Homo sapiens: one gene and its partners. The protein of the gene in region 3 interacts with the protein of the main gene of each other region in a pairwise test. Each region holds a gene or a part of one and is shown on either strand. Other genes may lie near its edges. The genes, in order: COBLL1, SOS1, PACSIN1, EHBP1, GAS7, EHD3 and KAT7.

Region 1 (4,418 bases), on a different chromosome or scaffold from region 3:
TTGGCTTCCCAAAGTGTTGGGTTTACCAGTATGAGCCAGTGCGCCCAGCCACTTTTGAGAATTTAAAGGTTAAACTGATAAGTTCTTTGCTTAAAAAGAAAGTACAAAAGAGCCTTATCTAATTTGTCAAGCATTTGTAAAGGACTTTTGCCGTCCCCTTTTCAAATTTAAGTAGGGAAAATCTGTCAACACCTTATCTAAAATAACACAGTAGTTCTATCATTTTGCCTTACATTATTCTACTCAGAGAAGTTATCATTACCTGAAAAATATCAACATGAAAAAATTACCTCTCTACTTCATTTGTCTTATTTCACTTGTCTAACTTGTCCTTTGGCATATTCCGAATGCCTGTCATATAAGATTTGTTGAATATTTAATATTCAGTATTGCTTCTCTTCTCTCTCAAAAACCCAAATTATAAAAGGTTTAAACTGGGGGAAAAATATCTAGATAAGGGTATTTGGGAAGTGGCAGGCAGAAATCTTAATATGTTATAATTGTTAGGTTTTGGAGATAAATTTCTTGCTATAAAACTGACTAATTATATCATAACTCATTACTTTAATAGACAATGAAGCCTAGTTTAGTCTTTATCCTTGGATATTACTGTTGGAAAGAATTCCTCTGTAATTTTCCAAGTTTTACATTGTTGTAACATGTCATTTTAACATAGCACCAAGTTTTGTTCTCCACATTTTATAAATGAGAATCTGAAGCTCAGAAACACTGAGTGTGTTGAAGTCCCAGCAAATTAGTAGTAAAACCAGAAGAAAAACTCCAAGTGCCTAGTTCATTTTGTTAATTGCTTTTTATCTTTTCTTGACCATGGTATGATATAACATACCATGACGTTATACATTTTAACGGATAACTTATATTTAACCATTAACTCTGTAATATTTTAATACATTTCAGGAAAAATGTAGTTGATATCCTTATCTTCACTTTTATTAATTCTATGATAAATTAGCCCATTCAGGGAATGAGTATTTTAGGAAAATAAAATTGTTTTATGGCCTCTCAGCTGCTGCTTTTTCTTTGAAACATTCTAAATAATAATTGTAACATCAAAAGGGATAGTTTGAAGTTTGTTTGGTGCCTTCACACATTTAACTCGCATTTAGCATTCTACGACATTGTGAATTATATGGGTTGGGTGTCATTTTCTTTTCAGTGGAAGCAATGGTGTGCAGAAATAGTGGCTGCCGTAGGGTCTGTGCTGGTGAAGTCCCTGCCTTAAAAGGGTCTGATCCTGTGGTCATCTTGAATGTCTTTCATTTTGGCCTCTACTGTACTGCTTTAATCCCTTACCATTCTAGATTAGATCCCTTTCTTTTGAGACAGGCTGGAGTCTTGCTATGTTGCCCAGGCTGACCTTGACCTCTTGGGCCCAAGTGATCCTCCCACCTCAGCCTCCTGCATGGCCGAGACTACAGTCACAAGCCACTGTGCCTGGCTTTAGATCACTTTCTTAGTAACATGCAGAAGTATCCACTTTATATTTGTTGTTCTGTATCTTATGGGCTTCTTTTTGGAATTCGTTATGAGGTTAAGAGTTTAGATATCAAAAGACATTGAGTCACAACAGTTTCGGTTTTCCTTCGAGAAAAAAGATTGCATGCAACTTTATATATATTCAAATGTAATATGTACATTCATATATAATTACATATTTTATGTATACTATACATATACATACATATATACTCCTATCTAATTCATGTATATATGTTTTCATATGTATGTGAAAGTTGACTGGTTTAACTTACATAGTGATCTAGATGAAAAATGATAAATCATTTTTATATTTGTTTCTATGAAGTGGAAATCCTAGGTTGGTTTGCGTTTTTTTTTTGCAGAGAGCAAAAATGTTGGAGACACTGGTTGGAAAATTGAAATGCTGCATTGGAGAAGAGAGCGATAGTCAAAAGTAATTTCCTTCTCTAACGTGGATATCCAATTAGTAAATTTATTTAAGTTTTCTATATTAGTACTTAGTAAAGTGACATTAATCACTTAGAAAAAGCAACATGATTGCTGACATCAACTTGGGTGCTTATCTTTGGAACTAGTGCTTATGTTCTTTACTTGCCCAGATATGCTTTAAAAAAAAAAATCCTTCGAAATTTAAATGTCAAAAGCTTAATTGACCTTGCTCTGAGGGATCTTAATATTTTGATTCTGAAGCACATTTTCAGGAATGTACAGAGGGGACAAAAGCTCTCTTTATCATTTTGCAGCTTTGGAGCTATGGAGTTAATTGAAGGCATACGAAAAATTAAAGAATGATTTAACAGCTGCTTTCTTAAGCTTTTGTTGAGGAGTGTTATTGGTTCTAAAGTTTCACTGATTGTATGAACTGAGTTCTTGAATACTTGAAGTTGAGTGACTTCTCTGAGGTTTCAACATGGGAGTCATCTGGGATACTTTCACACGAATTCTTGGGCTCTCATGCCCCCACCCATTCTGATTTTAATTCTCTTGGTCTGGGACCAGGGGATGGCTAGTTTTAAAATGCTGCTCAGGTGATTGTAGTGTGTGACCAGATTTGAGAATCATTGATTAAGTAGATATCAATAGCTGACATGGAGCTGATGCAAAAAAGAGAATAGAGGCTGTTACTAATCATTTATAGGGAACTCAAGATTGTAACTTTAGCATTATTTTGCCTTTTGAAAGATTCCATGTAGCTGCTTTGCAATATTATTTTTAAAGCTTTTGCTACTTCTTTTTGAATAAGTATATTAACTTCATTTTACAATGAATGAAACTGAGGATCAGAGAGCTTAATTAACACATTGAAGGTCATACAACTCTAAGGAATGGAAGAGTATTAGAAACAAGCTCTGATTCCAAACCTATGCTTTTCATAGTGCTATGTTTGCTACCATGGATTATACTGAATGGCTAAAAATGATTTTTATTTAAAGTGGCCTTATAAAAGCATTATCTTGATTCTTTTTAAAATTATGTTTACATTTTATATTTAAAAACTATAAATTTCAATGCATATAAAATGTCTAGCATTTAAAAGGAGATTAATTATTTGGCTTATGTCTTCAAAGTAATGTGTAACATATTCCTGTGTATGGTATGATGTAATTTAACTCATAGTAAACTGGCAGTTTTTTTCATCATATGACAAAGTCTATACTTATTTTTTGATATTAGGCAGCTATTAAATGTATAACAATATTTCAAAAGTAGGATTTTTGATTACTGAATAACAAAAATGAAATTATTTATTAAAAATGCTATACTTGCCCTTCAAAATCAATTACCTCTACATGAGTTAGAGGATATTGAATAACAATATTATGACCTTATATTTGTACTGAAACGCCAGATGTGTTAATATAATAATAAATGCCAAACTTCATGTTATTAAGACAACTACTTTTAATTAATCAGTCAAAAACTCCTGAACTCTTACTTTATATAAAACATATTTTTCTAGGTACTGGGAAATAGGCTTCTAATCTTAAGAACTTCACTACAGAAATTATATGTATCTGTAGGAATAAAATGAACATGATGTTAGTGTATAAATGGTACTTTGTTACTGGCTTAAAACATTATGTCTATGCTTAGAATTTAAAATGCAACAGCCTAACTTATGGGTCAGCAAACTATGTCCTGAAAGTCAAAACAGCCCTCTACCTGCTTTTTTATCCCCCTTTTTCTCCATTGTGGTAAAATATGCATAGCATAAAATTTACCATCTTAGCCATTTTTAACTGCATGGTTCAGTGGTGTTAAGCACATTCATATTGTTGAACCATCACCACCTTCCATCATTATAACTCCTTCCATCTGGCAAAACTGAAACCCTATACCCATTAAACAATAACTTCCCCATTCCACTTTCTCCAGCCCCTGAAAACCACCATTCTACTTTGTCTCTGATTTTGACTACTCTAGGTACCTCTTACAAGTGAGATCAAAGTCTGTCTTTTTTTGACTGGCTTATTTCACATAATGTCATACATGTTGTAGTATATATCAGTACTTTATTGCTTTTTATAGCTGAATAATATTCCATTGTATGTATAGATCACATTTTGCTTATCCATCCATCAGTGGATACTTGGGTTGTGTTCACATTTTAGTTATTGTGAATAGTGCTGTTGCTATGAACATGGGTGTACAAATACCTCTTGAAGACCCTACTTTCAGTTCTTTTGGGTGTGTTGTTAGAAATAGAAAGTCTGGATCATATAGCAGTTTTATTTATTAATTTTTTTGAGGAACTGCCATACTGTTTTTTGTTTGTTCTTTTTTTGTTTTGTTTTTTTTTACAGTGGTTGTACCATTTTACATTCACCAAAAGTACATGAGGTTCCAATTCTCTTCACCAACGTTTATGTTATAGAGCCCCCCTTCCCTGTAGCAGCTATCCTAATGGGTATGTGGTA
Region 2 (4,418 bases), on a different chromosome or scaffold from region 3:
TTTTGCATATTTACATAAAACAGCTTTTGACTTTAAGTTAGAGATACTTTTGCAGTAGAAGTGATAGGAGGAGGTGGAAGTGTACATAATCTAGCTGATATGTAAGGTTCTTCCAATTCTTATTTAAATAGCCACTAACAATGATTCTAAACAAGATTGAAAATACAGTATGTTTCATATCTGGATATGCTGTTGGTAGCTCAAAACCTACGTTTTTACTTGCCTGCTGGACATTTCATGTGGATATCTCCATATCTTGATTTCTTCCTTTGATTTGTTATTGAATTATTCGTAGATACATCCGACTTGTGTTCTCTTACTCTTACCTGAGGCTCTTTGGATATGCTAGTCCCTTCATCCTTCTTTGCCTGGTCCAACACTACTCATCCTTCTAGACTCACTCAACCTGAACTGTCAAATCATCAGGGCTGAGTTGGATATTACTCCTTTGTTTTCTTTTTGCACCCTGTCCTAGCTCTGTGAATTTTAAGTTCCTATTTACTTGCCTATAACTAGATTGGATGCTCCTTGAGAACAGGGATGATATCTTACCCACATTTTATTCCCCATACTTATAGTGCTTGACATCTGGTAGGCACTCAATTTGAATAAATAGGTGAGGGGATATACAAACTAAAACTATCACTTCTCTCCTCCACCTGTCATTTCAGTTTTTCTTCTCGATTAATGGCTTTATTGTTACATTTGACTGGTTTAAAATGTTGGGGTCATCTCTGGCTTCTTTGTATTACTGTGCACACTCAGGTAGAGCCTGTATGTTCATTTCCCTTTGACATGTTCTTCTAGTCTATTCCTCCTCCGACTTCTCTAATTGAGTCTCCTTTGTCAGACTACTGTGATAACTTCTTAATGGGGTTCACTGGCCCCCACCTCACCTTCTGTTTTTCAAATCTCACCAGTTATAGGACACTTCTGAACATGTCACACTCAGAATTGTTGATGTCTTTTGAGTTCAACCTATGCTAAAGTGCACTTTTTAGCATAGAATTAACAGCAATTGATATTTGGCTTCATCCTGCTTTTCTGACTGGATTGTCTACCATAACCTTTTATCTCCTTTTTGCTTTAGCCAGTCCGGACTGCTACTTTTCCTGAATATGGCTGGAATGTCCCACTGTATCTGTTTCACCGCATCTATGAGTCTAAGTCCTATCTTATCTATTGCACAAATATATCATGCCTACTATAGACCAGGTATTGCCCTTGACACTCAGGCTAAAAAGGTAAATGACAGGGCCGGGCGCAGTGGCTCACGCCTGTAATCCAGCACTTTGGGAGAGCAAGGTGGGCGGATCACGAGGTCAGGAATTCAAGACCAGCCTGGCCAACGTGGTGAAACCCCATCTCTACTAAAAAATACAAAAATTAGCCTGGCGTGGTGGTGGGCACCTGTAATCCCAGCTACTCGGGAGGCTGAGGCAGGAGAATAGCTTGAAACCGGAAGACGGAGGTTGCAGTGGGGCGAGATTGCACCACTGCACTCCAACCTGGGCAACAAGAGCAAAACTCTGTCTCAAAAAAAAAAAAAAAAAGTAAATGACATAATCAGAAAAGACTAAATTAGAACATGATGGGAAGTGGCAGGGCATGTCTGGAGAGACAACTGGTTTATGAACAGTTTTTATATATGTTAAGCTAAGGAATTTAAATTTTTTCTTGGGTAATTAGAAGCCATTGATAAAGTTTCTTTTGTTTGTTTTTGTTTTGTTTGTTTGTTTTGAGACAGAGTCTTAACAGGCTGGAGTGCAGTGGTGCGATCTTGGCTCACTGCAGCCTCCACCTCCTGGGCTTAAGCTATCCTCCCACCTCAGCCTCCTGAGACTGTAGGCACACTGCCACATCCAGATAATTTTTGTATTTTTTGTAGAGATGGGGTTTCACCAGGCTGGTCTTGAACTCCTGGGCTCAAGCCATCTGCCTGCCTCAGCTTCCCAAAGTGCTAGGATTACAGGGTGAGCCACTGTGCCCAGCCAATAAGTTTTAAGTAGGGGAGTAACAGCACATTTTAATTTTAGAAAATTCACTTTGGCCATAGAATGGAAAATGGTTTGGAGAAGAATGAGACGTAAAGTGAGGAGAAAAGTTAGAAGCCTAGTTTAATAGTCCAGTCAAGAGATAATACACATTTGAACTAAGGGTGCATTTGAACAAGGATGGAAATATGGATGTGGATTTTATTTGAAAGAAGTTTACAAGGCAAAATTGACAGGATCTAGTAACTCACTGAGTGATTGGGGGAATGGTAATGGAACAGGAATAGTCTTGTTTCTGACTTGATTGTCTTTAGTCAGGATAGAGAATGTAGGAGAAGCTCTTAGGATGGAGAGAGGAGTGGCATAATAAGATGATTTTTGGAAATGTTGACTTAAAAGTTTGGGTTATTCAAGTGAACTTCTCCAACTGGCTATTGGTTGTTGGTATCTGATTAAGCAGATTTGGAACTTCTAGATGTGTAAGTAAAGCCATAAATATAGATGAAGCCTCTACAAAGACTTATACATGAATGTTCATGGCAGCTGTTTTCAGTCAAAAACTGGAAACAATCCAATGTTCGTCAGCAGGTGAATGAATAAGCAAATTGTGATACAAACAGTGGAATACTATTGGTTGTTGGTATCTGATGAAGCAGATTTGGAACTTCTAGATGTGTAAGTAAAGCCATAAATATAGATGAAGCTTATACAAAGACTTATACATGAATGTTCATGGCATCTCTTTTCAGTCAAAAACTGGAAAAAATCCAATGTTCGTCAACAGGTGAATGAATAAGCAAATTGTGATACAAACAGTGGAATACTACTCAGCAATAAAAAGGAACAAACTGGCTGGGTGTGGTGGCTCACACCTGTAATCCCAGCACTTTAGGAGGCCAAAGTGGGAGGATTACTTGAGCCCAAGAGTTCCAGGCCAGCCTAGGCAACATAATGAAACCCTGTCTCTACAAAAAACTTAAAAAATTAGCCAAAACATTTAAAAAAATTAGCCAGGTGTGGTGGCATGAGCCTGTAGTCCCAGCTGCTTGGGAGGCTGAGGTGGGAGCATTGCTTGAGTCTGAGAGGTCAAGGCTGCAGTGAGGTGTGATTGTGCTATTGCACTCCAGCCTGGGCAAAAAAATGAGACCCTGTCTCAAAAAAAAAAAAAAAAAAAAAAAAAAGAGAGAGAACAAATTTGATACAAATGACAACATGGCTGAATCTCAAAATAATTATACTCAATGAAAGAAGGGAAACCAAAAAAGAGTATATACTATATGAGTCTACTTATAGAACATTCTAGAAGGTGCAAACTAGTGCAGATCAGTGGTTGTTTAGGGAGAGGCTTTTTATGTTTACTTATCTTGATTGTGCTGATGGTTTCAGGGGTGTGTACATATCCTGAAATTTTTCAGATTGTATATTTTAAATATGTGCAGTTTATTGTATGTCAGTTGTACCTCAATGAAGGTATTTTAAAAAGTAGATGAGACCACACGCTGAAAATGATTTTAGTAAGACTGAAAAAGGGCTGGCATAAGAAGTGGGGGAAGGGAGTGGGAAATAGTGTATAGGGAGATAGCAGAGGAAAAGGAATGATGTAAGGAGACCGAGAAGCAAGGAGTCAGGCAGAAGGAATGAAACCCTAGTGTCTGAGAAGTTGAGAGAGGAATGCTTCAAGAAAAGAGTTGGCTGTGTGCGATGGCTCACACCTGTAATCCTAGCATGTTGGGAGGCCAAGGCAGGTGGATCACCTGTGGTCAGGAGTTTGAGACCAGCCTGGCCAACATAGTGAAACCCCTGTCTTTACTAAAAATACAAAAATTAGCCTGACGTGGTGGTGCACGCCTGTAATCCCAGCTACTCGGGAGGCTGAGACACAAGAATCCTGGGAGTTGGAGGCTTCAGTGAGCTGAGATCACACCACTGTACTCCAGCCTGGGTGACAGAGCTAGACTCTGTTTCAAAAAGAAACAAAAACAAATCAGCCGGGCCAGGTGGCTCACGCCTGTAATCCCAGCACTTTGAGAGGCTGAGGCGGGGGATCACCTGAGGTCAGGAGTTCGATACCAGCCTAACCAACATGGAGAAACCCCATCTCTACTAAAAATACAAAATTAGCTGGGCGTGGTGGCGCATGCCTGTAATCCTAGCTACTCAGGAGGCTGAGGCAGGAGAATTGCTTGAACCCAGGAGGCAGAGGTTATGGTGAGCTGAGATTGTGCCATTGCACTCCAGCTTGGGCAACAAGAGTGAAACTCCATCTCAGAAAAAAAGAAAAAAAAAAAAGAAAAGAACAAAAAGAAAAACAAAAAACAAAAAAAATTAGCCAGGCTTGGTGGCACGCACCTGTGGTCCTGGCTACTCAGGAGGCTGAGGTGGGAGGATTGCCTGAGCCTGGGATGTTGAGGCTGAGGTGAGCCA
Region 3 (3,648 bases):
TGTGGGCGTGACCTGGGCCCAGGATGGGAGTGGGGGCAAGATTTAGATTGGTTGGTGCCAGGGGCGGAGTCAGAACCTGAGAATAGTGTGGATGCGAGGTCTGGTTTTGGGGACGGACCCGACACCCAGATTAGGTGAATGGCTGAGGTAGGCCAAGACCCCTATGCCAAGGGTGGCACGTGAATGTTGGCGTGGGACTGGGGCTGGTTTCCAGGGGCGGGGCCTAAGAATCTAAAACCCAGTGCAGTAATCAGGAGGTGGGTATTGGAGGGTTCCCCTAGCAGCCGGTGCGTTGAGGGAGGGGCAGCCTTCTCTCTGAGCCCCTCCCTGTGTTCTCTTTCCCAGGAGACGAACTCACCAAGCTGGGCGAGGAGGATGAGCAGGGCTGGTGCCGTGGGCGGCTGGACAGCGGGCAGCTGGGCCTCTACCCTGCCAACTACGTGGAGGCTATCTAGAGGCCCCCTCCCTCCATACTCCCGTCACTCCTCCCCACTGCCGCCCCTCCCCTCCCACTCTCGTCTCCTTCCCCTCGCCATAGAGTTCCAGACATATTTTCCGATCAAGCTTTTATTTTTTTAAAAGTCAAAACAGAACAAAACAAAGTATGCAGAGACAGAGCATTTGCAGGGCCACCTGGAGGCTGGGGTGCTGGGGCTTGGGGTGGCCCCAGGGTAGGTAACAGTCTTAGGACTTAGCCCAACATCACAACATCTGCTCTTCGGGTTCCACCAAAGAGTCTCCTGAGCCCTGAGGGATGGATGTCTCCTGACCCTTCCACCCCGCCTCACTCCCTCCGTCCCACTCCACTCCAGGCTGCCGGCACCTGCCCCATTCCCTGGCCTGGTTTCCTAACCTCTTCTTCCTCCCCTGCCCTGCTTCCCTTCCTCCACCACCCTGCTCTCAAAGGCCTCCTCTCCAGACCCCTGGAAGGGAGGCTTCCCCATCTTTAGTTTTCCACTCTGCCCCGGGGAGCACCCTTCTACTCCTAGCCACGTCCCTTGGGACCGGTGGGACTGGAGGAGGAACGGTCACCCTCCTCCCCCATGGAGGTTTCCAGGGGTCCCCCAGACATGAAAGAGGGGTGAGCTGGAGGAAGTCATGGTGTCACTGGGGTACAGGAGGGTGAATGAAGGGCATGCAGGCCCTCAGCCCGGGCTGTGCCAGCCCTCCCAGCCCCAGGCCCATCTGAGGGACCAAGACGCTGTTACGCAGGCCCTTCTTTCCAGCTATCAGCACTTTCAGCATCGGCTCTTCAGCAGATCCAAACCCCCTCAGCAACTTGCAGAGGACCTGTCCCCTCTCAAAAGTCCCCTGGCCTAGGGTGGGGACCCCCAAACCTACGGCAAAGCCAGCAACAGTAGCAGCCTGCTCCCATTTGCTGGGGAGGAGATCATCTTGTTCCCCTGGCCCCCCACTCTCCCTCCATGTCCATCCAAAAACCATAAAATCACTGGGTTCCACATCAGCCTCCATGAGGCCAAGCCTTGTACCTGCAAGGCTCTTGGCCTAACCATTCCTCTGTCCTCTTCTCTGGCCTGCCTGGGGAGCCCGTGAAGGCCGCACGGGTGCCTCCAGCCTGAGACATCAGGGGAGAGCCTGCAGCTGAGTTCAGCAGAAAGGAGGAATCCTGGCCCTCAGGAAGAAGATAGTCACATGTTTTTCTTCCTTGTCCCCACGGCCCCCAGAACAACATTCTCCCTGCTGGCAGCCCTTCCATGTCTCCAAACCTGGGTCAGAGTGAAAGGACCTTTGGGGGTGGGTGGGAGCAAAGGGCCCACCTGCTGGTTGGTGAAAGCAGTGGTGCCGGAGTGCTAGGTACCGCACGAGAGGGTGCGGGGGCTTGGGAAGCAGACCAGGGTTGGACAAAACCCCATGAGGGCGGGGAGCTGGAAGAAAAGTCTCTTGGGGACCTCTGGGGCAAGGAGCTGAGAAGTCCTGCAGCACCAGGTGAGACTTGCTTACAGTGGATGCCACTTCTAGGCCTCTGGACCGCAGATGCCCTCCTCCCTCCTGCACACCTGGCCTCCTGGGCCTCCAGGTAAAGAGAGAGAGCCAGCCCAGCCCTGTTTCCCCTCAGTCCTCCTTTGCTCCTGCTGCTTCTCCCAACAGCCCACTGTTAGGAGGTAGTAGACCCCAGCCTCAAGGCTCTGACCTTCTTCATGTGGGCACAGAGGGTCCTGACACTCTGGCAGGGCCTGAGCTGGGGCAGGCCTCCCTCAGGGCCAGGGGCGATGGCACCCCGGGGACAGGCAGACCTCCTTCCTGCCGTCAGCACCCCCTTCCTTATCACTGTCTGGTCTCCGAGCTTCGGCTGCAGCCTGAGGTGTGTCCTGGGCTCCTCAGAGCCTGAAGCAAGCTTTTGGAAGCCTGCAGTCCTCCCAGCTCCAGTGCAGAAGCCTCTCTCTCCAGCCTTTCCCCAGGCAGGAGTTGGGGTTGGGGGCCTCTGTCCCTCATCGCTTACCTTGGAAAGGTGGGAAGCTGGCAATCTGCACCTTGGGGCCTGGGCTCCCCCTCTCTGTGCCAGCGGCTTCCCAGCACCTGGGAGGGGCTGCAGCCCCAGCTGGACTCCAGCCTGTCCCTCTTAGCACTCTAGCTGCCCACTCCAGGGCAGGGACTCGAAACCCCCTCCGTCCTGAGCAGCCACCTCCAGGGCCCTGTTTGGGACCACTCTCTCAGTCCCCAGGTCCTCAGGGCCCCAGAGCGGGAGGGTCTCCTACCTGGAAGTCCCCCTGAGCTCCAGGGCCCAGCCCTACCTGCCAGTGCTGGTGTCAGGGCACTCAACACCGAGTGTGGGGGCCACGCCCCTTGCCATGCCCACGGCCTCCTCCTGTAGCTCCTGCCTGCACCCACGATGCTGCACGGGCCCGCCCTGGTGGGGCTCGGCGAGTAATGTGTTTTGTCCCCAGTTAACCACCATTCTGCGGCCTGGTTCTGCAAGGAACCAGGGCTGCCCCACCGCCCGCCGTCTGCCGCCCTAGGCTTCCTGACTCCATTAGTTCCGACACTTGTGAAACTCCGAGAAGTGCTGTGGTCTCAGCAATGCACCTGTTTTGTACATGATTGTGTAATTTAAAGGTATATAAATACAAATATATATATATATCAGTTGTGATTGTATGACTGTGGATAAAATCCAGAACTGTGTCAACCTGGCTGCGCATTGTCATCTTGAGTCTGTGCACCTTCAGTCCTGGGGGTTTCTGAGCCCTCTGAGAGCTATTTGTGGTTGGGATGCAGGGGGGTAGGGGTGGTGCCCGAGCAGGACTGGGTGCTGTCCTGGCCCACCATCCACAGACTAGGCCACTGAGAGCCGGTCCCTTCGCCCTGCGGGGGCCTGGGTCTTGTCTGGACTGGGGAGGGTGATACTGGAGGCTCCTGGAGCTCTGGCCCATTCAGGTTCCGGGTGCCTGGTGACAGGCCCTGACCAGGAGAGCTGGGGCATTCAGGGTTCCACATTCATGGATCAAGAGTGAATGAGGTCCTCAAATAGGTTTTGCTTTTTAAAGCAGAATTCTAAAAGTGACTGCTGAGGCCCACGGTTCCTGGCTGTCCACAGTGCCAAGCTCCCTGTGCGGTGATGTTGGGCTGTGCCATGCCTTCCTGCGTCTCGCCTGGCTCTGAATGCATTTCTGTGTGGGACCCGTGGGA
Region 4 (5,210 bases), on a different chromosome or scaffold from region 3:
TCAGTCTCTCTATTTTTTCTCTCTTCCCCCTCTCCCTTTGGAGTAAGGGAAGCATGTTAAAAGAAACCAGAATGACCACATAAGAAAGTTTGAGAACTTCCAGAGAACAGTAATAAATAGGGTGCAAAAACCTTCTGATCATCATGTGGATTGTTTCTGAAGGGTAACTTGGATGAAAATAATTTATGACCATTTCTACAAATAAGCCATTAAAAAACTCCACACACTTAAAGCCTACTAAAGATGCAGAATATATTATTATATGAGATCATAATGGCTGTAGGTTGTAGTGACTTCGTAAACCACTCAGGAAGGACATCAGAGAACTCTTAATAGAAAATAAGAATCAATATGATTATTACGATTATCTTAACATTTTAGAATTGACTAGCAAAATAAGCGATAACTATGCTGTTTTCTGTAAAATGCACACTGTGCTCTTGTATTATTAGATCATTTTCTTTATTGAAAGTGGAAATTGAATTAGATACTGGATTCAAGCCTTATATCTGTCTCCCCATCTCTCTTGATTCTTCAACATGTCTCTCCACTTTGTCTTGGCCCCCAATGTCTACAGATGGACTCAATTCTCACCCATCACTGCTCTCTCTTCCTGTCCCTGAAAGAATCCTCCCTAGACCCTAACACCTTTCAAGCTACTTTGTCCATGCACCCTGCTTTCCAACCTTCGTAAGATTGAATGATCCTTGTTTCCAGAACCCATCCCGCTTGCTTTCTTTTTATGTTAGCTTGCCTCTCTTTTTTTTCCAAACTGTCTGCCCATAGCTTGCTGATGCGCCTACTTCTCTGATTATTCCTTCTCGGTCTCTTTCCCATTTTACTCTGTTTATTCCTTAGATGCTAGGATTCCCCTGAAGTTTCATTCTTTGTCCTCTTTCTCCACACCAGGGGTCTGTGAACCACCTAAAACTGAAAACAATTTTTTGTGTTTTGAGACAGAACACTTTTTCCCCCTTGAGAAAGTATCTGTAGCTTTCATATTCTCAAAAGGGCCCTTGGCTCTTTTAACAAGATTGAGTGTCCCTGCCCTCACTCTGCCTCCTCCTTTTTGCCTTTGACCACCCTTTTTATATGCTAGCTGTTCCCAAATCCATCTACAGTTCTCACTAGGGGCAAAAGAGTCCGACAGCGAAGAGGAAACCAAGATTCAAAGAAATGTTGAAGACTCCGAACAATAAGAAATTGTACTGTACACATTTTGTGTCTAGCTCAGCTGATTCAATCCCACTGAAGACCAGTTGACTCTATGTTGGGCGGGGAGCGGCCGGGGTGTCGGGGGGTGCCTGACAGGGTCATTACTTCAGGTTGTCAGGTAAGATCCCAGGAGGAACTGGTGAAATAAAGGCTATGCGCAAAAACCCTAGTTGCCAGTGGCGGAGGAGAGGGCGCGCCCAGGTCCTGGCGGAGATGAGAACAGGAGAGAAACCCACAGGCAGCTGCACTGCCCACAGCTGCAGCGAAGCCAATCTCTAGGTCTGCAATCACCCTTAGGGGCCAGAAACCCAGCCCCGCACCAGCGGCGCCTTTGACGGACAGCCACCTTCTGCAATCACCTTGCAGTTCACTATAAACACTCCCTATTCCTCCCGCCTATCGCTTCCCTCTCCAAGCCAATCAGAAGAACGGGCGGGATCGTCCTTAGTCGGTTCCTTCTTTTTTTTTTTAAAAAAAAGGTAGCCTGTGCGTCGCATTCCGGCTTCGGGGAAAAACCACCTCCCGAGCAAGGGCAAGGCGGAGCCCCTGTGATGGGCAGGCAGTTCTACCAATGAGGTGCCCCAGCCGCTGTAAGACCCGGCCGCCGAGGTGGGCGGGGCACGCGCGGGGCCTGGCCAATGGCGGCGGGGCGGTGGAGGTTGAGCTGCCGTGGGTAGGGTTAGTGTGAGAGGTGCGGCGGGGGAGGTAATGATGATGGTGGCGGAGGAGAAAGGCGGGGGAGGGGGTGCTGGGCGCTGAGCGGTGGCTCTGGCAGGGCTTGGTAGGGTGGGGGACGGTCGCGGGGCGATCTGTCAGGGAGGGGGTGGGCGTGAGGGGCGCCGTCCGCCTGAGGGGCTGCAGATCCCGGCTACCGCGAGCGCCGTGGCTGGCTTGGCTGTTCCATGTGGCTCCGGCGGGGATGGAGGACTCGGTGGCGGCGGCGGCTGCTGCTGCGGCGGCGACGGAGGAGCGGCTATGAGAAGGGAACGGGGCCAGACTCAGCCCGACAGCGGGATTAGAGGTGTGAGGAGGGGGCGGGAGTGGACGAGCGGCGGGGCCGGGGCTCGGGGTCCGGGCTGGGGTCTTCTGGTATCGCCTGGGTGACAGGGACCGCGGACGAGCCACCGCCTGTCTCCGCTGGGGGGCAGGGGTCTGGGCTCCGTGCGTGAGGAGACTGGGCTCCGGCGGACTGTTTCCCTGAGGATGGGGGAGGGAGGCACCGCACCCTGCACAGTCCACTTGCCCCGCTGGTCATTGCTTCACCCCCAGGCAGGAGTTTCCATTTCCCTCCGGTTGGCAGCGAAGGAGCCCAAGTGGCCTGGAGCCGGGACATTGCCCTCTCTCTGCCTGGAGATTTCCCTCCACTCCTCGTTCCCCATCCATTTCCTCCCTCCGACTGAAAAATAGCATTCCTCCTGGCTCCCTAATTTGTTCCAAGCACATATTGTCGGACTTGAGGCTATTAATTATCGACTGAAAAACAAAGTTTATTAAAAAATACTCCACTTCTCCCTCTTTCTGGCGGTGGACATTAAACAGCATCCCTAGACTTTCCCGCTCTGCTCGCCCTTCAGTGATGCTAACAGGGGGAGGTAGGGCCCCGAGTTACCGTCTCTCTGGATTGTTGTTGGTGCTGACTACCTGATGTGTCGCTCCACGTCTTCGGTGTGAATTGTAATTTCTTCCTTGGTGTCTTGCATCCTTGATGTTACTGGCTTTTGAGGTCAGTGTTTTGTTTCATTGTTTAAAAGACATGCAGAGAACTGGGATGGTCTTTTGCAGCGTTATTTAACATGGGTGGTTAGTCATTTCTCATGATTCTCTCCTCATATTCTTTCTCTTTTTGTCTTTGTTTTGCTTTTCAGCCCTCCAGAATACCCATCATATAGCCCCTGAGGTGGCATGGTGATGTCTCCATGAGGGAACCCCTTCCCACTCATCCTGTCACGTATATCATAGTGTTCTTGACTGGGCCATTCATCTAAGATGGGATTTACCCTGTGAAACAGGGAGAAGACTTATGGACCCCAAGCATCATTTCGAGTTGTAGTTGAGTTTTTAAAAGACATACATGCAAAGTTCCTTTGCTTTGGACCCTCTGCATTATTAAAGCTGCTGTATTGCTAACCCAGAACTGCTCCAGTGTCTTGACTGATCATCATGGCTTCAGTTTGGAAGAGACTGCAGCGTGTGGGAAAACATGCATCCAAGTTCCAGTTTGTGGCCTCCTACCAGGAGCTCATGGTTGAGTGTACGAAGAAATGGTAAGATGTACCTGGAGGTAGATTTTGCTGTGCTGTGGCCTAAGCATACTGTGGCCTAAACTCTGGGTCTTCTGATAGTATATTTACCTTTCTATAGTGCACTAGTGTGTAGAAGCTGGGTGGGGCGCAGATAACTCTAACAAGTACTGTGCTGTGCACTGTTGCTGCTAGTACCATCCCTGTGGATTTTAATTACTGCGCTTCAGTATGGCTCAGAGGACTGTAACTGTGAGAGCACACTAAATACAATAGATTTGGTTTTGAGGTTATTCATCATTAGTGTTAAAATAACTTTGATTTTTGTAATTTTAAGGAGACAAAGAATGGCTACTGAAATATTGTGAGCATTAATCCGTATATTTTAATATAACAGGCATATGATTTAATAGAGTTTTAATATAGAAGTCTATATTCTTGTGGGGTGATGGTAATCTATTTTATTTTTGTTTTTTCATTTTTCCTTGCTTAGGATAAAGAATTTTTCATTATTTGATTAATGGAATGCCATCCACAAAACCTTAGAAATTCTTTTGTTAAATGCTTACTCAGGCAACTGTATTTTATTTTAATTGCCTAATGGGATACATTTCTTGGCCAGATTTAAGGAAGCAATTAGTAGTGCTGGTCTGTGATTGGCTTTTTTCCACTTGAGAAGAGTAAATATAGGGCTTTCTTTCCATTGCCCTGAATGATAAACAACAAAAATTTTTTATTTAGTGAGAGAAAAAAGTTAATTTTAAGCAAATGGTCGTTTGGGTCTTGATTTACTGCAGTGATTAAGCAGTAATGGACTTATTGCAAAATAAGTCCATTTCTTTGTCCAGAAGGACTGTAATTCAGGTCTGTAATAATTTTTCTTTTTAACATCCATTTTATTAGATTAAAAAAATAGCTTGCTTTATTCTAGAACTCTTATATTTGAATATTTATTTGGAACTAGTTTCTGAATGCTTTTCTCTTCAACTTATTAGGAATATTATTTTAAAATCAGTTTGAGAAATGCATGCACTCATTACCTACTTTATACCAGGTACTGTGGATTTAGAGTAGAATACAACATAATCCCTGTCCTCAAGGAGTGTGCAGTCCAGTATAAGGAGAGTCACATGAATAAATTCACCGTGAGAGATGCAATAATATAAATATGTATGACATAAGGATTTTAATCTGTCTCGATACAGTTGAGTATCTTTGAGGACGGGTTATTTAACTTCTCCGTGATTCAAGTTTCCATATCCATAAAGGTCATAATGGTGCCACTTCATGGGGAGGGTAATTGTGAAGATTAAATGAGTTAATACATTTAAAATGCTTGGAACAGTGTCAGGGACATAGTGCCTAATAGATGCCATTATTATGTACAGAGGTCGCAGAGGGAAAAACAATTCTTTAAGGGTAGAGGATGAGTTGTTGGGATGGCTTCCTGGGATCTGAGCTGGGTTTTGAAAGATTCATAGTTGTTGTCCAGGAAGCCAAGGGAGAAGACGTAAAAGACATTCTAGACTGAAGCAACAACCTATGCAGAAACATGGGAGGCTTACCTAGCATGGGATGTGCTGGAAATTCAAGTAGTATAGTTTGATATTAATGGGGTTTAAAGTGTAGGATTGGGGGGCATGCAGTGAGATATGAGGTTTGAGAGTCAGGCAGGACTGAAAGCATGTTAAGTTATGTGCTGTTAATAAATGATTTGGGGATTATTCTGTAGGTGATAGGAACATAGTAAAAGAT
Region 5 (4,418 bases), on a different chromosome or scaffold from region 3:
AGTGAGCTGAGATCGCAGCACTGCACTCCAGCCTGGGCAAGAGAGTGAGACTCTGTCTCAAAAAACAAAACAAACAAACAAACAAAAAAAGACAGTGAAATATGTAACCCACCAGACATTTATTTTTCCTTACACTGGTGGTCTAACCATATTCCACAGGTTCTTATTTGTGGTGGTTTTATTTCTGCTATTTTCATTATGTTTTGCTATTTGGGTTTTCATTTGATCTTCGAACCAAGAATTGTTTCAAAGAAAATCTTTATATGTTTACAAGCAAGGGCTTTGTTGTTGTTTTCTAATCTTGCTATTTTTTTTTACATAGTTTTATTGCATTGTCATCAGATAATACGGTCTCTCATTCCTGTAGTTTGGAATTATTTTGTGACGAAAGTGACAGTCCTTAGACCTAACTCTGAAAAATACCGCCTCTTCTGAGCACTCGCTGTGGCCAGCCTCCATGCTTTAGAGCATTGTCTCTTTTGATCAGCACAGTCCCCCTGCAGGGAGGTATTTTTATACCCTTTACAAATGAGAAGACTGATGGCAGAGAAAATGAGAACCTTCCATGAGGTCCACAGTGGTGGAGCGGCGAAGCCACAATTCAGTCTCCTCTCATTCCAGAGACTCTGCTTGTCGCCATTTTGCTGGACAGCCTGTTGCTCAGGAAATGCCACCTGTTCTTTCCTTCTGTTCCTTTCCTCCCTCTTCCTCATCTTTTCCAAGGCTACTAGAAGGAAAGACATCAGATCCTCAGGGATCATCATCATCATCATCATCATCATCATCATCTTCATCACCACCATAGCCCATATTAATATTTGGCTCTCTACGCCCATCTCTATTCTAAGTGCTTTACATATTTTGACATATTTATTCCTCATAACAACTTGGTAAAGGTACAATCGTTATCTCCATTTTACAGATGAAGACACGGAGGCAAGCGCAGGATAACCGACTTGTCTACGATTACATAGCTAATAAGTAGTTGAGCTGGGATGACAACAAAGGCTTTTTTTTTTTTTTTTTTGAGATGGAGTCTTGCTCTGTCGCCCAGGCTGGAGTGCAGTGGTGCGATCTCTGCTCACTGCAAGCTCCGCCTCCCTGGTTCATGCCATTCTCCTGCCTCAGCCTCCCGAGTAGCTGGGACTACAGGCGCCTGCCACCACGCCTGGCTAATTTTTTATATTTTTAGTAGAGACGGGGTTTCACCGTGTTAGCCAGGATGGTCTCGATGTCCTGACCTCGTGATCCACCCGCCTCGGCCTCCCAAAGTGCTGGGATTACAGGCGTGAGGCACCGCGCCTGGCCAACAAAGGCATTCTTGTCCCACAATCCATGGTCTTAACCAATACTGTTCTAAAAAGTTCCAATTTCAAGCTCTTGGGCTGCCATAGAGAGAAGGTACAGCCCCCTTCACCTACTCTGTTTCCCAATGCTGTGGAAGTTCCTGAAGCAATTTCTCAAAATCAGCATTGACACACAGGGCTCAGGGAGTTTCACAGTGTACAGAGCAGCACGCCGCCCTCCTCCTCGGCCAGGCAGGAGCTCTTGCTAGAAATGCATTTGCATTTCGGAGGCTGAGGCGGGCGGATCACAAGGTCAGGAGTTCGAGACTAGCCTGGCCGATATGGTGAAACCCCATCTCTACTAAAAATACAAAAACTAGCCAGGGGTGGTGGCGCATGCCTGTGGTACCAGCTACTCGGGAGGCTGAGGCAGAAGAATCACTTGAACCCGGGAGGTGGAGGTTGCAGTGAGCCGAGATTGCGCCACTGCACTCCAGCCTGGGTGACAGAGCCAGACTCCGTCTCAAAAAAAAAAAAAAAAAGAAAAAAATGCATTTTACGGTGCAGCATCCACTTTCTTCTCTCCGGTTCAGTGCCTCTTGGGATCAAGGGTCCAGTCATTGGCCTTGGACCAAGAACAAAATGAATAAATGCCTTGGTGTGGGCTCTGTTATTCAAGGCACACTCGCGTCTGGTGTGTGGCATAGCTAGGGGTATGGTTCGCAGCTAGGCCTGGGGCCTGGAGACATAACCTTCCCTGTTCTCTTTGACTTTCCTATCAGAGTACCTATGAGCCACAATGATGATACTATAGGAGTCACTTTGACTCTACTCGAATTACTAAATTCTACTCTAGCATTCTGCTTCTAGAATTACTAGAGAAAATTACTTCACTTTGGGGTTCACTCATGAGCTTTTTCCATCGTGAGCAAACACCATGATGCCTTCCTCTTGCTGGAGCCCTGTGAGGATGAGGAAGCTACGCTGAGACAAAGCCGTGCATGAGAGCTGTGCTGCTCTGCCTGCCACGTGCACACACATTACCAGAGCGTCTCATAAACATGCAGTCTCTGATTCAGTAGGTCTCGGATCTGTCCTGGGTTTCTGAATTTCTAGCCGACCCCAGGGCATACAAGTGCCACTGGCCCACAGACTGTGATTTGTGTAGCAAGGTTCCAAGGTGCTGGTACGCTTAGTAATGTTTGCAATTACTTCGCAGTGTGTTTTCTTTCTAATTACAAAATGTTCTAAACATACATATGATAACAAAGTAATAGAGTAGTCCTAAAGATTGAATAGTTATGTTTGCCTCGGATCTTTCTGTGATGACATAAAATGCAATAGAAGGAGCTGATTCCTGCCCACTCACCCTTTCTCTGTTTCCCAAGGTAGCCACTCTCCTGAAGCTGGGGTGTGCTCCTCCAGTGCATGTTTTAGACTGTGACTACAGATGCGTTCTTTTGTGTTTCAGAAGGACATCTTGCAGTGTGTTCATGCACACACACACACACACACACTTACATGATCTGCAAATTTATCTTCCTTAATTATTCTTAGCACCAAATTGTGTGTGACATGTTTTAACCAATCTGGACTCCCCAGTGTAAAATAAAACTGCCATCTTTAGAGAGGGAAGCATTTCTTGGGCTCATGATAGGATTGGGGGTCCTAGGAATACCCTAGACACACACACACACACACACACACACACACACACACACACACACACAAAATGAGAACCACCATCCTGAATCCTTGGTATCTGGGGTCAGGCTTCAGGGGGACACCTGAGCTGGGTTCTCATGGGGCTGGGTTGCCCCCTTCCTTCCCTGGCTCTGCTTTCTTCTTCTTCCTACTGCCATCCCTTTTCCAGCTTTCCAGCGGCCACCATGACCCCAGGGGGAGGAGAAGGCTTGGCTGTGGGGCTCAGGGTGGGGCACAGAGTCATGGTGAGGATAGGATGCTTCATGATGGTGACTGTGGTCTTTTTCCAGGAGACGACCTCATGCGCTGTGTGGATCTCTACAACCAGGCCCAGTCCAAATGGTTTGAAGAGATGGTGACCACCACATTGGTAAGCGGGCAGGGATGTGTGGACATGGCAGTACAGAGGCTGACACAGAGCAGCCCCTGGTGGTTGTTGGTGGGCGCGGGGATGATGGGGTGGAGTGACCCTGGAGATGGTCATCAAATCTACTTCAGTGTTGGGGTCGAAACCTCAATGTGAGCCAGCTTATGTGGATTCAGATCTCTGCTCCAGCGCTTCCTAGCTGTGTGGATGTGGGCAGGGTTGGGTTGGATATGGCTACATCCTTCTTGGGCTGTCCCCTGAGAGGTCAGGGTCAACTGAGGACTCTCCTCAACTAAGTGGACAAGGGCCTCTTTAGGAAAAATAGCCAAGCTATAGGAAGAGAGGACCGCCCCACACATGCACACACACGAGTTGCAGGTCCTTGGTAGGAGATCCTTGCAAAGTGGATGGATGGGTGAGGATGGAGCTAGGCAGTGGGGTGGGGGAGGCCTCTCACCAAGGGTGAACAACAGGCGGCAGGGCCGATGATGCTCTTGAGTATTTCTTGTAAAGGGGCAGCATCTCCTTATCAGTCAGCACCTGCCTGAGTGGACAGTGAAGTGTGGCTGGTACTTGGGCCAGATGGGACAGGAGGCATCATGCCAGGTGCTCATCGGATCAGCCCACTGCCTAAAGCCACCCCTGTCCATCCAGCACAGGACTAACCAGCTGCCTTCCCCAGGTGTCAGCCCACCAGAGCAGATTAGAGGCCTCCACCAGGGACAGTGACCTAGTTTTCCTCCTGGTTAATCTCCTAATTAAGCCCCCTGCTTTACCCCCCTTTCTGATTAATCACCTGGGCAGTGACCTAGTTGTATGCAGAGTAACAGCCGGATCCCCTAGATTCCAAAGACACAAAACCATCTAGAAACCAGAGGACAAACCCTTTCCACGCTCCCCTTTGACAAAAGCTGTGCCACGTGCAGCCCAGTCTGCCTCCCTGGCCCGGTCTCTATTGCGGCCACAGCACTAGGCATAGGCAGAGGAAGGGAGGCTGCTCAGCAGAGGCCCAGGGACAAGGTCCCAGGAATGTGTGGCATGGAGCTCCCACATGTGCCCCC
Region 6 (3,318 bases), on a different chromosome or scaffold from region 3:
GTATAGACTCCAGACAGCATCACATAGGAAGAATAAACAAGCCTATTCTCTTCAGGTCATTCAGCAGATTCTGATGAGTTAACTCATAAATACAGGTTTTGGAACCAAATGGAAGTGGGGATGACTCAGGGCAACCACTCATCACTCTGCAAACCAAGGCCCATGCCCTGCTATGGTTCAGTGGTGTCATCTGGAAATATTCATGTAAATGAGCACCCCAGTTTTCTAAGAGCTGTTTTTTTCTTCCTCTCTTCTTTTTTCCATTTCCTGGATTCCCAACTTCCTAGGTAGCCCTTTAGAAATGCAAATATAGGCCTGGCGCAGTGGCTCTCGCCTATGCCTGTAATCCCAGCACTTTGGGAGGCTGAGGTGGACAGATCACTTGAGGTCAGAAATTCAAGACCAGCCTGGCCAACATGGTGAAACCCTGTTTTCACTAAAAGTAAAAAAAAAAAAAAAAAATTAGCCAGGCGTGGTGGTGGAGTACCTGTAGTCCCAGCTACTTGGGAGGCTGAGGCACAAGAATGGCTTGAACCTGGGAGGCAGAGGTGGCAGTGAGCTGGGATCATGCCACTACACTCCAGCCTGTGCGACAGAGTGAGACTGTCTCAAAAAAAGGGAAATGCAAATATAAGCTTTCATCTCCCCTTCACTAGACATTCCCTACAGGGCAAGTTCATCTCTCTGCTCCAAAATAGTCCTCCAGAATTGACTGCCAATTTGCAGACCAAAACATGCCCTCCTTGAGCTTTCACCTCCAGGGGTTGCCTTGGAACTCCCACCCTCCAGGGGCTGCCTCAGGACTTTCATTCACTAGGAGGTTATATCTAAAGTATGCCTACTTGGCCACTTTTAAAATTTATTTTTGCCCAGGAAGGCCCGACTCAACTGTCCAGTAGATAAGGCACCATGCTATCAGGCGGACCCTTGCTCACTTGCTCCCTTACCTTATAAAAGTGCCTGCTTTCTGCTCCAAAGGGGAAGCGGCACATTGAAAGGCAGGACGTTGTGTGCCCCTCCTCCAAGCTAGCTTTGGAATACATTCACTTTATTGGTATCAGACTTTACTCTTGTCCGTGGGACTTTGCATACATTGAGCAACTAACCCGCATTTCAGTTACATTCATGTCACACTTTGGTCATGATTTAGCTCTTTGGTACCAGGGGCAAGCTTTGCTTGGTCAGTAGCATAGGGTGTTGCTGTGTTTATTGGATGGATTCCATGGCCCAGACTGAGTAATGTCGGGGCAAGGAACAACAGGACAAGTGCTCTAGAAATTCTTGTCTGTGGGGCTGACATGACATGTCTCTGCTTTCCCTATTAAATGTTTCCTGGGCTGAGGCATGAGATCTCCCAGGCCCCTGAAGCCTGGAAGGGGTCAGAAAGCCAAGGCAGCAAGGCTAGAGGGCACTGCCAGGGAAAGTGACCCACATCTGTCCCCTCAAACATCAGTTCCTCTTTCCAGGGAGATGGGAGCTGTGCAAACATGGAATTCCCACACCTCACAGGTCTCTCCTGGGTGGAGACTTCAAGATGGAGAGAGGGAAGAGAGGCAGCATATGTAGAAGGGCAGGAAAGTGGCATGTGTGTCCAGTGGCAGTGAAGAAAGGGGATAACAGACATCTCCCTTTCCTATAAAATAAAAAGACAGGAACTTCACCTACCTCTGCTATTTCCTTCCCATTTCTCCTTCAGCTTGAAGAAAGGTGTGGAGTTGAGAAATGGTCCCTAACCTGCACTCGGCACTCAAGGGTTTTCTCCAGAGCAGGTGAGACCTCTTTGCCTGGCCTTTGTCTGCCCTTCATTTCATGTGAAAGAGAAATGTGTATTTGCAGAAGGAAGCCCAGGGGCTTAGGGAACATCTTCACTCCAGAGGAGCAGGGAGCGGTGGCTCCACCAGCTGTGCCTGGGTTGGTCACTGAGCCTAGACAAACTCCAGCCCACTGGGAAGCTGGTTGTGGATGCTGGCCATTGGGTGGCCCCAGTGAGCCCTTTCCAGCCAAAGATTTCACCAGGAACTCCAAGTAAGAACCCAGCCCTTCTCCCTCAGCCTCCATTGAATGATGCTCTGTGGCCAGGCAGGTACCAAAGAATAAATGTACTGTATTAACATGAAGACTAATGACAAATGCACTGCAGTAGTAAGCACGTCATAGATGCATAGAATATTCTCTATATAGTCTGAATATGGATATAAAATAAGTTATACTCATTTTGTTTTCCATCACAGTAGGAGCATAGCATACAAAGTGATTGGTTCAGTGGCCATGAAGCAAGCCAGGGGAGAGACCACAGAAGAGAATGTAGGGCATTGAGTACAGTGGGGATTTGCCAAGGACACTGCAGAGTCCCTGGGGACCCTCTGGGGAACAAGGCCCCAAACCTCTCAAGTTAGCCTTCTGAGAATAGTATGAGGTCCCACTTGACAAGAGACAGTGGCTGCATCTGAGCTGGGATGATTCAGGCAACTGGGTGGGAGGCAGAGCAGGGACAGGCACGAACAGCATCCAGCAGGCTAGCCCACTCTCCTGCTGGTGCTGTTGGATGTCTATGATGCTGGGAATATGGGGCGCAGAGCCAGAAGGCACGGTTTGCTTCTGTGACGTGACAGATGGCCAGACTGATGGGCCACCAAATGCTGGCCGGCCCTCCTCCCTTGCCAGCCTGTCCTGGGAGGCTGCAGGGGGCCTGCATACTTTGCTTGTTCTCCATAGTTTGTCATTGGGTATCAATGCTGGGATCCTGCATACATCATAGCACAGACAAGTGTGTGAGGGTCTGAGGCCCTGGCTTTGAATCCTCTCTCCATCACGTGACTTCTGTGAGTTTCAGAAGGTCGCCTAAACCCTTCTGAGGCTACTCAGCCTCCTCAACTGCAAAATGGGAAGGCTAATGCATACTTCCCTGGGGCATCAGTGAGGGCCACATAGAATAATGTATATAAAGTGCCTAACACAGCTCCTGGTACGCAGGAGGGGCTGGGTAAATGTGAGTCAAGTATGAACATCTAAACATCATAGGCCAGGTGGAAAGAACATCTAACAAAATCTATGAACTAAAACCACCTTGACTGGTTTTCAATAGACTACAGGACAATTTCCTCACTCTTATCAATTTTTTTCTCTTCTCTCTCCCGCTCTGGGATTCTTTAAAATGAAATACTGGCAGAGTTCAAAGCAAGGTTTGCCGAAGAAGACAGAGGCTTAGATTAGGAAAGAACAGAGCTCCTGGGCCAATGTCTCTAGAAGACGCTTCCTTTCTCACCTCTCCTCCCTGCAGCTGCCCGCCTGCCCTCAGATCTCCTAGCTCTTGAATGG
Region 7 (3,500 bases), on a different chromosome or scaffold from region 3:
AAACCATAGGCGCCCCTTTGTCTCAGCTGGGCAATTTGCAATTCTGAGAACCTGTAGCCTAGGAGAGACTCATCTCTGTTGTTTTCTTAATCCCAACAGGAACTCCCCTTTTGCTAGGTTTCCTCTGCACTAAGAATGAAAATAACAGTGAAGAGGAATAATGGAAAAGGCTGTTGTCAGATGTTTTAGAATTAATCTTTGACACAGCCAAGTTTGATACATTGGTTTTCCATTCTGATATTTATTTAGAGCTAGTTTATACTGAGTTGCTGTCCTAGGCAGAATTTTTAACAACTTTGCTTGAAGAAAATTCTGGTGATTGAGTTTACCTCTGATATAACAGATTAAATGTGTTCAGGGAAGCTCAGTTTTAAAGTGAATCTCGTCTTCACCCCCTTCCCCCTTGTATTAAAAAAAAATTGTATCAAATACTAGACTTGTTGAAAACTTGGCAGAGGCAGGGTTTGCTGGCTACCCTTGGCTGGGATGGGCTGTTACTGCTGCTGGTTTTCTCTATCCTATTCTGGCATGGAGCATTTCCTGGGCTAGCCTTTTACAACTTTACACCTGGTTATGCTTACAAATTATACTTTTGTAGCCAACTCAGAGCCACTGAATGGAGATGGATATCCGAATTTTTTTTTTTTCTGAGACAGGGTTTTGCCCTGTTGCCCAAACTGGAGTGCAGTGGTGCCATCATGGCTCACTGCAGCCTCGACCTTCAGTGCTCAAGCGATTCTCCCACGTCAGCCTCCTGAGTAGCTGGGACTACAGGCATGCCACTACACCCATCCCAGAAATATTTTCTGCCTTCTAGAGTTTAGATTCTAGAATTATCATGCACATTTCAAAAATATTTTTTAAAGGGCCTGTTTTTTTTTCTAAGTGACCATTGTGGATATATTTCACGGAGATTCATATAGCTTTATAAAAGCTTCTGCAGATAAGTAAGGCAGATTCTAAATCAAGTTTTTTGTTTAGTTTTAGAATACTTTATAAGGGTGGGGAGTTTGTATCTGTGATGATTTTCTTTATAATTCAGTTTGGTCTAGGCTGATAAAAATGAAGTTTCCAAGGTATCATTCTGGTGAGGCCCAGAATGTGGGAGGTAGCAGAGAAACCTCTCTTTTGAGACCTGTGCTCTGGGCAGTATGGGTAGTAAGTTTTCTGTACACCTGTGTGATTTTTCATGTAGCTCTCTTTAGTGTAAATTCTCATGGATAGAAGCCAAATCTGTCTGATTTTTTTCATAGCCTAGCGTGGTGGCATGCACACACACTTTTAAAAACAAAGATAATATTTATTTTTTTAAAAAGGAGTTTCGCTCTGTCTCCCAGGCTGGAGTGCAGTAGTGCGATCTCGGTTCACCGCAGCCTCTGCCTCTTGGGCGATTCTTCTGCCTTAGCCTCCCAAGTAGCTGGGATTACAATTGTTTGCCACCACACCTTGCTAATTGTTGTATTTTTAGTAGAGATGGGGTTTTGCCATTTCGGCCAGGCTGGTCTCGAACTCCTGGCCTTAAGTGACCTGCCTGCCTCAGCCTCCCAAAGTGTTGGGATTACAGGAGCCACTGTGCCCTGTCTAAAAGCAAAGATAATAAATTCTGATCCTCCTTTGACTTTTGATTTCTTGGCAATAGGAGAAGTTAAGGCTGCAAGGCCAAATCACAGAGGGAAGCAACATGATTAAAACAATTGCTTTTGGCCGCTATGAGCTTGATACCTGGTATCATTCTCCATATCCTGAAGAATATGCACGGCTGGGACGTCTCTATATGTGTGAATTCTGTTTAAAATATATGAAGAGCCAAACGATACTCCGCCGGCACATGGTGAGTTGTCTTGGGTTCCTCTGCCTTGACCATGATGGCAATAAGCTGTAGGATCTCTAGATTTTGCCATAGCGATGGCATCTGTTCAGGCACCTTCTCAGTGGTCCTCAGCAGTGGGATGAAGGCATAGGAAATGACAGGCCACAGCTTAAGGCGGGGTATAGAGCCTGAGGTATGGCTTGTGCTGGGTGCCACCCAAAGCAGCTGAGGGCCCTTACCCACATCCTGTCATGTACATCTTCTTGTCTTTTGTTCTTGCTGCCTACTGCTCTTCATTTCCTCCTTGGAATATGAATTACCTCTGCCCACAGGTTTTGTGTGTCCCAAACTAGATGAAAATACAGACTTCATTAGGCACAGCAGAGACAGCATGGCTCACCTTCATATCCCTAGCAACTAGTGTGGACAACTGATGCCCAAGAAGTATATGTTGAATGGGTACTTATTAATATTTAATAGTGATCAGCCTGTGACAGATTATGAAAGTAGCAGAGTGGGTCCTTTGGTGCCTTCCCCTCTTTTTCCTAATAAAACAGGTATAAGGAGTTGAATCTGTTATTGTTGACAAATAGGTTTACTAGATTTTTTGCAGCTTCAAAAAAAAAGCCATTTTTCCCCCGCTCTGTTACAGAATAAGCTTTGTCTTAAGGGGAATTTCTGCCATGGAGCAAGGGTGCGGAACAGGGGAAGGAGTAGAGATTAGCCTTTCAGGCAGAGAAGACTTTTTCTTGTTTTTTTTTTTTTTGAGAGGGAGTCTTGCTCTGTTGACCAGGCTGGAGTGCAGTGGCGCGATCTTGGCTCACTGCAACCTCCGCCTCCCAGATTCAAACGATTCTCCTGCCTCAGCCTCCTGAGTACCTGGGACTACAGTCGCACACCACCACACCTGGCTGATTTTTGTATTTTTAGTAGAGACAGGGTTTCACCATATTGACCAGGATGGTCTTGATCTCCTGACCTCATGATCCACCCACCTCAGCTTCCCAAAGTGCTGGGATTACAGGCATGAGCCACTGTGCCCAGCCCTTGTTCTCATAATCACAATATAATTTGGCTCTAAGGCCTCTGGGGTGTCTCTTTTTCCTTCCCCTTCCTTTTTTATTTCCCAGGATTTCCATATGTTGAGCATCTATGACCCAGGTTTCCTGTGATTTCTGTCATTATACTCTTCTCCCCAGTTTGGTTGGTGATAACTGCTTTTTTATGTTCCCAGTTCAGGAGCATGTGGTCTGTAAGTTCAGGGCCCAGAACTGTTGCTTTGACTCAGGTTCTCCAGACCCTGGCACACTTGACTGCATAGGGCTAGAGTCATGGAGGGGAGGTGATTGGCGGCGATTGGTAGAAATATCAGTGCACAGGAAATAATGGGGTCAGAAGGTGGGGCACTGATACAGATGGCAGGCCGTGGAGATAAAGTAAAATGGTTTTACTGTGTGAAAGCGGGTATTTTTATTGATGTGAACTGCTTACCATTTATGCCTTTTTTCCTTTTCGTTTCTGGTTGTTGAGTGACACAAACCAATGAAATAGCCAAAAGGGCAAGAAATAGTAATAGAAGGAGAAAACAAAGAGTCTGAATAAATCTGAGAATCAAATAAACATTCTGAATATTTGAAAATCTTCCATATTATATGATATAAAAATCAGATTTCAGGAAATACCTAATTTA

Evidence for each region.
Region 1: the proteins of PACSIN1 (region 3) and COBLL1 interact in binary tests that used the Homo sapiens proteins (3 or more experiments, as listed by UniProt).
Region 2: the proteins of PACSIN1 (region 3) and SOS1 interact in a two-hybrid assay, tested with the Homo sapiens proteins (one large-scale study listed by IntAct).
Region 4: the proteins of PACSIN1 (region 3) and EHBP1 interact in a two-hybrid assay, tested with the Homo sapiens proteins (2 studies listed by BioGRID and IntAct).
Region 5: the proteins of PACSIN1 (region 3) and GAS7 interact in a two-hybrid assay, tested with the Homo sapiens proteins (one large-scale study listed by BioGRID and IntAct).
Region 6: the proteins of PACSIN1 (region 3) and EHD3 interact in a two-hybrid assay, tested with the Homo sapiens proteins (one large-scale study listed by IntAct).
Region 7: the proteins of PACSIN1 (region 3) and KAT7 interact in a two-hybrid assay, tested with the Homo sapiens proteins (one large-scale study listed by BioGRID and IntAct).

Annotation. Positions count from the first base shown.
Region 1 is NC_000002.12:164,834,943-164,839,360, reverse strand, and holds part of COBLL1 (cordon-bleu protein-like 1), read left to right. Parts: intron 1-4,418.
Region 2 is NC_000002.12:39,114,164-39,118,581, reverse strand, and holds part of SOS1 (son of sevenless homolog 1), read left to right. Parts: intron 1-4,418.
Region 3 is NC_000006.12:34,532,076-34,535,723, forward strand, and holds the end of PACSIN1 (protein kinase C and casein kinase substrate in neurons protein 1), read left to right. Parts: intron 1-345; coding exon 346-455; 3' UTR 456-3,148; downstream 3,149-3,648. UniProt on the Homo sapiens protein: Plays a role in the reorganization of the microtubule cytoskeleton via its interaction with MAPT; this decreases microtubule stability and inhibits MAPT-induced microtubule polymerization.
Region 4 is NC_000002.12:62,703,817-62,709,026, forward strand, and holds the start of EHBP1 (EH domain-binding protein 1), read left to right. Parts: upstream 1-1,896; 5' UTR 1,897-2,236; intron 2,237-2,496; exon of another isoform or gene 2,497-2,938; intron 2,939-3,080; 5' UTR 3,081-3,375; coding exon 3,376-3,479; intron 3,480-5,210. UniProt on the Homo sapiens protein: May play a role in actin reorganization. Links clathrin-mediated endocytosis to the actin cytoskeleton. May act as Rab effector protein and play a role in vesicle trafficking.
Region 5 is NC_000017.11:9,918,568-9,922,985, reverse strand, and holds part of GAS7 (growth arrest-specific protein 7), read left to right. Parts: intron 1-3,280; coding exon 3,281-3,360; intron 3,361-4,418. UniProt on the Homo sapiens protein: May play a role in promoting maturation and morphological differentiation of cerebellar neurons.
Region 6 is NC_000002.12:31,267,161-31,270,478, reverse strand, and holds the end of EHD3 (EH domain-containing protein 3), read right to left. Parts: 3' UTR 1,028-3,318; downstream 1-1,027. UniProt on the Homo sapiens protein: ATP- and membrane-binding protein that controls membrane reorganization/tubulation upon ATP hydrolysis. In vitro causes tubulation of endocytic membranes. Binding to phosphatidic acid induces its membrane tubulation activity.
Region 7 is NC_000017.11:49,816,181-49,819,680, forward strand, and holds part of KAT7 (histone acetyltransferase KAT7), read left to right. Parts: intron 1-1,639; coding exon 1,640-1,831; intron 1,832-3,500. UniProt on the Homo sapiens protein: Catalytic subunit of histone acetyltransferase HBO1 complexes, which specifically mediate acetylation of histone H3 at 'Lys-14' (H3K14ac), thereby regulating various processes, such as gene transcription, protein ubiquitination, immune regulation, stem cell pluripotent and self-renewal maintenance and embryonic development.